Linked DNA regions of Homo sapiens: region 2 is linked to region 1. Evidence: fine-mapped expression QTL. A gene starts in region 1. The other region holds a variant in brackets. All regions are shown on one strand. Distances are between the middles of the regions. Region 1 holds the start of HCFC1 (host cell factor C1). Region 2 overlaps TKTL1 (transketolase like 1).

Region 1 (4,351 bases):
CGCAGCCCCAGCATCTTTGAGCAGCCCTGGATGGGATCATGTCTGCCCTGGCTTTCCACCCTTCCATGACCAGCTTCCCATTCCATGTCCTGGATCATGTCCCAAAGTCTTGGCCAGACTTAAAGTGCCATCCCCATCCAGCCCTGTGAGCTCCTCAGGCCCAGCTCTGTCCTGGAAGCCCTTTGCCCACTTCGCCTGGCCATTGCCCTTGACTCAGCTGTCATTTCCTCTCAGGCACTTCCCCGTTCAGCTCCTGACTCCAGCTGAGACACCAGCTGAGGCCCCGCATGGCGTCTACAGGTCCTTCCCTGCACCCACCTAGGGCCCCATGGCACCCATGCTAGTCTGACCCTCCTGCCTGCCAGCAAGCAGGGCGGAGAGCTGGAACAAGAGTCAAACACTGTCAACTTGATCGAGGAAGAACTCCAGGAAGGGCATGGAAAGCAACTCCTCTTTCCGGCTGCAGGGGTTCAGTCTATCTGACCGGGGGTACGGGCTGACAGTGACCATGTAATCAAAGCACCTGTCCAAGACCCCCAGGAAAACCGAGCTGGTTACCTTATAGCCTAGCTTCCCTGTACCTTTGAATTGCCATGATCCTTATTATGTGACACTCAAATCTCGTCACAGCTTCCCCCAGCGCCTGGCATGGGAAAGCCAACACCTCAACAGCACTGGCCCCTGGGTCTGGGGTCTTTCAGGGAAGCCCTGGGAAGCCTGACAATCTCCTGGCTAAAGGCCCCAGACTCTCCCGCACGCGTTTAAACAGCAGGCACTGTCACCTCCAGGCCTTTAGCATTTATGGTTAGTTATGTCCCCCGCTCCGCATGACCTTTCTTGCTGTCTTTCTGTGGATAAAGGAATATCAATTAACATTAATTTAGCTTCTGGACTGATTCCAGGCAAGGCCCTTGGAAACCAGCAGCTGCTTTTGTGTGTGTGTGTGTGTGTGTGTGTGTTTTTGAGACAGGGTCTTGCTCTGTCGCCCAGGCTGGAGCAGTGGCGCGATCTCAGCTCACTGCAGCCCTGAACTCCCTGGCTCAAGCCATCCTCCCACCTCAGCGTTCCAAGTACCTGGGACCACAGGCGTGTGCCACCATGCCTCCGGGTCTCGCTATGTTGCCCCGGCTAGGCTCAAGCAATCCTCCCACCTCAGCCTTCCAAAGTGTTGGGATTACAGGCATGAGCCAACGCATCAGGCCTTAGTTTTCTTATTTACCATGGGTGGGGGACTTGGGGACATATGTGAGGTAACTAGCCAAGGTCACAAAGAGCAGGTGGTGGCACAGACAGGCAAGAATTCTTCTCTTTGTCCCTTCTCAAATGGATACTTCCAACTGCATGAACTAAAACACAGACGATTACAAAATACATGTAATATGTTGAGAGGCGACTTTAAAAATATTGTTGAAAATGTGTGAGAGGGTGACGTGTGCTTCTTTACTAACGCATTAAATTACAAGGTCTTCCAGCAGGACGCATAACTTCAGTAACTTCAAAGTAATAATTCTGCCCGCCGGTAGATCTGGTAGATCTTGTAATTTAACTGAACTTCTAGACGTTTACAACAAAAGCCACAGGCTCTGACAGGACCGGTCTGTCCATTTCTACTGGCGACTGCCGCTCCCGGGCAGCAGCTTGGGTCCCCGCGCTGCGGCCTGCGCGTGGCAGGGCGGATGCCGCCGCCGCCGCCGCCGCCGCCGCGCCCGGGCGGCCTCCTAGAGGAGGCGAAACGTGGGGGCGAGGCCGGGACCCACCTCCCAGGGCTGCGGTGAGCACTTACAGTATTGGCGCGAAAAGGCCAGCTATCACCATACGGGTATTTCGCCTCACTCGCCTCGCTGGGGGAAATTCAAATCTCCGAAAAGGGAGGATCCGAGCAGCGCCGGTGCGCCTGCGCGCAGGGCGGGACTCGAAGCCTGGGAAGCGGGCGGGGCGAGGTGACGCGAGATGACGCGGACGCCTCCCGCGGTCGCCCGCCCGGCTCGTGCGCCACCGGCCCGACTGCGGGCCTCTCGGCAGTGGGGGCGGCCGAGCGCGCGGCGGTCTGGGGCGCGCGGCCCGGCTCATTTTGCTGCGGCGCGGGCGGAGGCGGTGGCGCCCGAGGGCGGGCCCCGCAGCCTGGGAGCCTGGGAGCGGGCGGAGGCTCCACCCCCGGGCGCCGGCGCTCGGCTGCGTCGCCTCCCACTGTCGCCCCGCCCCCGGCTCCCCCGCGGCGCGCCTCGGGCCGCCTCCTGCGGCTGCTGGGTGTGCAGGGCGCGAAAATGCTCGCTTCCCGGCCGCAGGCGCGGCTGCAGTGGCTGTTCGCCAACCCCGGCCACCTGCGTGCCGCTGTCCCCAGTGCTGGTTAAAGGCAGTTCTTCGGGCGTGCGTCCCTTATCAACCCGAGAGACCGTTCCCAAGGGGGCGGGGCCGAGCGCGTCGGAGGGGTTAGCAGTCTCATCCGGGCATTTCCGAGATGCCGCCGCCGCCATCTTTGTTTTGTGCTGAAAGTCGCTATTGACGCCCGCGGACGGCCGGGCGAGGGGAAGTGGCAAGATGGCGGCTCCCAGGGCGGAGGCGTGGAGGCTCGCCCGGTGGGGGGGCCGTGGGGCGGGGCGCGCCTGCGCCTGCACCTGATCTGAGCGCGACTCGAGCTTTAGCCCAGCGCGCGGCAGCGCCGACCCCCACCCCCGCCGCGAGGCAGCGCAGGGGTCCTTTAAGAGGCTTGGGCCCAGGGGCGAAGCGGTGCGAGGGCGAGTGGGGGGAAGCGGTGACGTCACCCGGCTCCGCCTCCTCGCCCGACCGCCGGCGCCGCTGCCGCCATGTTTAGTTGTTACTTCTTCACACAAGATGGCGGCTCCCAGGGAGGAGGCATGAGCGCCCTGCCGTTACCGCTTCTTCTGCCGTACAGTTGCCGCTTCGGGGCCTAACTCTAGCTCTTTGAAGCGGCTCCTGTGGGAAGGAGTCATAAGGCGGGAAGTGAGGATCGGACACCGCCTTGAGTTTGGTGTGCAGTGGAAGAACTGACCTAGGAGGAAGAGAATAGGGGGGAACGGGGAGCTAGTCTCAAGATGGCGGCTCCCACGGCGGCAGGCGCAGCCTGAGCAGCAGAGGCGGACTAAGGGGAGAGGCGCGAGACTTCACAAGCCGTACGGCGCGAGCCCCCAAACGGCCCTCGAGAGCTCGAGCTGGTTCCACCGGCCTCCGGCCCGCCTCCATTCGTTAGGTGTGTCGAGGCTGTTTCGGGAGCGGCGGCTGCACTAAGGCGCTGGGCGGGGAAGCGGGACGGTCTCAAGATGGCGGCTCCCACAATTGTGGTCTGAGCGCCGGCGGGGCTGCGACGACCGCGGCGCTTGTGGCTCCTTTCCACCCGCCCCGGAAGCCGGCCAGTGCTGGGGACTTGGGGGTGTGGGAACCGGGCCGGGGCTCCGCCATTTCCGGCGGGGGAGGGCTACGACTGAGGAAGGGAGGAGAGAGAGGCGGCTCAAGATGGCGGCTCCCAGGGCCTCCCGCCCGAGCTTGTAAGCGGGAGCGCCCGGACAAGTAGTCGGGGCGACGGGACTCAGCGGCCTCCAGCTTCTTGAGCCTAGGCGCTCGACAGTTTCGGGCGGCTCTTGCGGAGACGGGGTGAGCGAGAAGAAAGGGAAGAGCCAAAGGGAAGGAGGGCAGTTAAGATGGCGGCCTCCATGGAGTCGTCTACCGCTGTGTGAGAAACCGCTTCTCCGTGAGAGCTGCCTTAGACGAAAGGGGGTGTGTGAAAGGAATTGAGGGGCTCCCTTCCCGCTTGTTGACTTCTCCCCACCGCACCCTTTCCCGGAACTATGGCTTCGGCCGTGTCGCCCGCCAACTTGCCAGCGGTGCTTCTGCAGCCCCGCTGGAAGCGAGTGGTGGGCTGGTCGGGTCCGGTGCCACGGCCCCGCCACGGCCACCGCGCCGTGGCCATCAAGGAGCTCATCGTGGTGTTTGGCGGCGGCAACGAGGGAATAGTGGACGAACTGCACGTGTACAACACGGGTGAGTGCAAAGCCCGCTGGGTCTTCGGCTCTTTCCCTCCCTCCATCTCCTCCCTCTCCCTCCTCTTTCCTCCCTCCCTCCATCTGCTCCCTCCCTCTCCTCCCTCCCTCCATCTCCTCCCTCACCCTCTACCCTTCCCTCTCTCTCTCCCCTCCTCCCTTACCCGTCCTTCTCCCCTCTCCCCGTCCCCCTCCCCCTTCTCCCCTCCTCCCCCTCCCTCCCCACTGATCGGCTTGCCCCTCCCCTTTGCTGTGCCGGGCTTCAGTGCTTTTCTCTGATCTTCTCCCCGTTCCCTTGTCTCTCCCGTGTTTGAGGATTGGTTTTCGTTAGTTAAAAGAAAGCCCCTAGTCCGACT
Region 2 (4,379 bases), 350 kb before region 1:
ACCTGTGCCTCCAGCTTCACCCAGACAGCCGTGACTCTAGCTCCATCTAGAGCCATCTCGTCCAGCCTCATTCTCCCAGGGAGTCCCTGAGATGGCTTTCCAGCGTGCATCTCTGGCATTCTAGAAGCAAGTGTGTGCAGCCACATCTAGTAAGCCCATCTGCCTGCCACAGGCACGCCAGCTGGCTCATCTTTCCCATGTCATTTCTGTCATTCACGAAAATGACTCTCTGACGTTTCCCAAGTGAGGAATCCCGGAGACTCGTGTGTTTTGCTCTTCACGCCATTGCAGAGTGCTCCATCTGTTAGGCACACTCACCTCTTTCTTCACTCTCAGGTCCCCCCCCACCCCCCTGGTTTTCTCCCCCACCACCTTGCACACCTTGTTTCAATCCCCTCTCTGGCTTCCCGTTTCCTGTGGTTTCCTTCTAGCCCACCTGCCAGGTGACTACTACTCTGAGAAGGGTGTGTTTGTAAGAGTTCCTGCCTCGTGTCACGCTCCAGGGTTCTCGCTGCCCCAGGCAGGAAGGTGGTGATGGTGGTCCCAGCCCCCCTCCCACCTGAGCAGGCTGTGCAGCCAGCCAGAATGCTCCTCGTCCTCTGTGATGCTGTTCACCCTCAGTTAGACTGCAACCACAGCGAGGGCAGAAAAGGCTCCATGACTCTGCCAGTCCTGTCCATAACCTGCACGCAGCTCAACACACAAGGGGCACTCGGGATAAGCAACTGTTTCTCACTGTCTGAAACAACAGTACCACCGAGAGATGCACTTCAAAAGTTGCCCTGAGAGTCTGACACTTTTAAAGTACAATATGGCTTTTTCAAGAAAAAGGCTTGAATAATCAAACTTCATGGAACCATAAGGAAATTCGTGGTTTAACCAATCACATGCTAATCTTTCTCTGTGAAGGAGGAAGGCTACCAAGATGATGGCATTTAGAACCCTTACCAACAGATACCCCACAGTGGGAACCAATAATGTTGATGTTGCTCTCAGCGAGGCCTCCTATCCGGATGTGATCAAATGCTCGAGTCAGAAAGGCAGCAAAGGTGCTAGCAAAAGCAATGGTCCGTCCACGGGAGGCACAGCCCAGAGCCACGCTCACCTGCAGCACAGAGAACATGAATCAGAACATCCCTGGGCATTGCCCCCACCGCCCCTTCTCCCACAGTCCCCATGATAACTCCCATTCTGCACCTGCTGAACTGCTCTGAAGTTCTAGCATGCGTCCTTCCCACACCCCTCTTTCCTCAAACCCTGGGCACCCGTCCGTCCCTCCTGCTCAGACGGCGCCCTCAACTCATAGCTCCTAGGGAGCAAGAGATGAGACTCTCTTGCCTGCCCTCCTGGTGTCCGCAGCTTTCCAGGGTCCATGCCCCGACAGGACATCCTGAATCTGTCCTGTTCCTGCTTTCTCACAGGGGTCTCCAGCCATGCAGCTCCTCCTCCCCTCTTGTGCTACTTCCCTTTCTCTTGGATCATTCTATTTCCATTCAGGTGTGCGCCAGCACCTTTTATCTTCACAGCCCCATCTCCGCCTTGTCCTGCTTTTACATCTGTGTTCTCCTTCGCAGCAAACTTCTCAAAACTTGCCTATAGTCATTGCCCCTGCTTTCTCATTTTCCACGCTCTTCCCAGCCTACTTCATCTAGGCCACCATCCCCACAAGGGACCTCGAAGCCACAAAACCAAGAGGCTGCCTGACCTTGGGTGGCCTGTGACTTGACTTGGCCCCTGATCTCAAGGCATTTCCTCCTCTCGGTTTCTGCAGTGTGGCAGTGGCCCACTGCTGTCGCCTCATGGGCGCTGCTGGGGCAAGTCCTCAGGGCCCTGTGCACCCTCGGGAAGTCGCATCTGGCCCAATGCTCCCCTGATGTGCATTCTGGTAATGATCCCCACTTTACATTGCCATTCCTTAC[C/T]CCCCTTCCCCAGAAGTCCGGGCTCAAATACCCCAGAAGGCTTCAAACTAGAATACAAACCTCTCTGCGGATACACACAGGCTTTCCAAAGGGGATGTGGCTGTGGGTGTTACACTCAAGATCCCAAACTCCAGATCAACTCTGTCTACATTCATCTGCCAAAAGGAGGGTCTGTGCTCCCCTCATGGTCTTTTTTTTTTTTTTTAGACAGGGTCTTGCTCTGTTGCCCAGGCTGGGGTGCACTGGTGCAATCTTGGCTCACTGCAACCTCCACCTCCTGGGTTCAAGCGATTCTCCTGTCTCTGCCTCCCGAGTAGCTGGGATTACAGGCACCCGCCACCACGTCTGGCTAATTTTTGTATTTTTAGTAGGGACGAGGTTTCACCATATTGGTCAGGCTGGTCTCGAACTGACAGGTGATCCACCCACCTCGGCCGGCCTCCCAAAGTTCTGGGATTACGGGCGTGAGCCACTGCCCCTGGGTCTCCCACTGTCTCTTTTAACAATCACCTTCTAGCAACCTGATCCCCAAAGGGCATGCTCTCAGCCACCTGACTCTTACAGGGGGATCATCCTGGAGTGCAGAACCTCCAGACCCAAGTAAAGAGGACAATTTGAAATAACTATGCTGGTGGAGAGAAAGTGAAGAACTTAATTAATGAAACTGTCAACTCTGTAAATAACTTTTATAAACAACTTTACATGAAAGATCACTATGTGATTTTTTGACTTACAACTGGGAAGGAATTCAAAGAACTGAGTGACATTCCTCTAACAAAACTTCCCTTCCCATCTACTTATTCATGTAAGTAAGGTTTCATAGCACATCATGAAGATGAAAAACAGGAATAGAATCTGTTCTCAATGCTATCACATTCAAACTACAAGTATACTCATCCACTAACATACCAGCTAATAATAATCAAAATTCTATCTCAGTCCAGAAAAAAAAACCTAATGCTCAGAAGCCTATATTATAATTTTTTAAAAACCTATCAATTTATATGCATATTTTTGTTGCAGAGAAAAATGATAGGACAATCAATAAAAGGCTTTCATGCATAAAGATATATTGGGGAAATGAATGGAATGGAAATTGGAAATCAAGTAGAAAAAGGGTTTTAATTTCTGACAAAGAAAAGTGGCTTGGCATGAATTTTTTTTTTTTAATTACAGACCAGGTCTCACTATGTTGTTCAGGCTGGTCTTGAACTTTTTTTTTTTTTTTTTTTTTTGAGACGGAGGCTCGCTCTGTCGCCCAGGCTGGACTGCAGTGGCGCAATCTCAGCTCACTGCAAGCTCTGCCTCCCGGGTTCACGCCATTCTCCTGCCTCAGCCTCCCGAGTAGCTGGGACTACAGGCACCCACCACCACGCCCGGCTAATTTTTTTTTTTTTTTGTATTTTTAGTAGAGAAGGGGTTTCACCATGTTAGCCAGGATGGTCTCCATCTCCTGACCTCGTGATCCGTCCGCCTCGGCCTCCCAAAGTGCTGGGATTACAGGCGTGAGCCACCGCACCCGGCCTGGTCTCGAACTCTTGAACTCCAGCAATCCTCCAGCTTCAGCCTCCCAAAGTGCCGGGATTACAGGTGTGAGCCACTATGCCCAGCCAGTGTCATCATTAATGGCATGATTTGAGTATTAAAGTATCAAAAATGTCAATATATGAACAACTACATCCTTTGCAACGACTTAAATTTATGATTAAAAATGTAGATGTGGCCAAGCATGGCGGCTCCCAGCTCCTCAAGAGGCCGAGGCCAGAGGACCCCTTGAGCCCAGGAGTTTGAGGCTGCAGGGAGCCATGATTGTGCCACTGCATTCCAGCCTGGGTGACAGAGCAAGACTCCATCTCTACAAAAAATAAAAATAAAAAAAAGATGTTAGCTTAAAACTAGGCCAACGAATATGTAGTTTAGAAAACTGCATTTAGTGGTGTGGAGCGGCCACATGTGAAAATGACTGACTGATCTACTGCCCAGCCATCTGATACCACTGTCTCCCCTCTGTACATCTAACAGGTGCCCCAACCCCCCAGGCCCACACAGAGCTCCTGATGGTGCCCTCCAGTCCACTTCTCCCCCAGTCTTGTCAATCTCAAGAGGTGACACCACCTTCCCCCAGGTGCTGCCACCCACACTCAAGCACCAGCCTTGGGTCCTGTCCTGACACCTGCCGTTGGCATCCTGCTGGCTCTCCTGCCAAGGCAATATGTGACAAGTCTGCTTCCCTCCGACTCCACAGCTACTGCCCTGGTCCAAGTCACCCTCTCCTTCTCCTCCCTTTCCTACGTGAAGCCATTCTCCAGTCTTCAGAGTTTTGGAAAACGCAGGCTGTTGCTTTCCTGCTTAAAGCCCTCCAGTGGCTTCCCAGCAAACTGCAAGAGAACCAGAGATACTGAAAAGGGCGCCTATAAGACCCCGTATGACCTGGGCCCTGGAGAGTTTTCTGCGTTCACC

What was found. PIP is the estimated chance that this variant, and not a neighbour inherited with it, causes the effect. A credible set is the group of variants that fine-mapping cannot tell apart.
Region 2: its variant is the best candidate, but not a certain one, in a credible set for the expression of HCFC1 in T cells (TOPMed, PIP 0.90).

What each region holds. Positions count from the first base shown.
Region 1 is chrX:153,970,293-153,974,643 of GRCh38, reverse strand. HCFC1 (host cell factor C1) reads left to right here and starts at 2,826. Exons shown (of 26, transcript NM_005334.3): 1 at 2,826-3,996. The coding sequence starts at 3,804. It overlaps TMEM187 (transmembrane protein 187), which reads right to left and starts at 1,890. Exons shown (of 2, transcript NM_003492.3): 1 at 1,784-1,890. RefSeq lists silencers at 1,606-1,715, 1,826-2,275, 2,506-2,745 and enhancers at 2,976-3,735, 3,377-4,226, 4,216-4,351.
Region 2 is chrX:154,317,483-154,321,861 of GRCh38, reverse strand. It overlaps TKTL1 (transketolase like 1), which reads right to left. Exons shown (of 13, transcript NM_012253.4): 8 at 949-1,105. Among named protein-coding and RNA genes, the nearest start is that of TKTL1, 24 kb to the right of the region's middle. The variant C/T (reference allele first, on the strand shown) is at 1,920.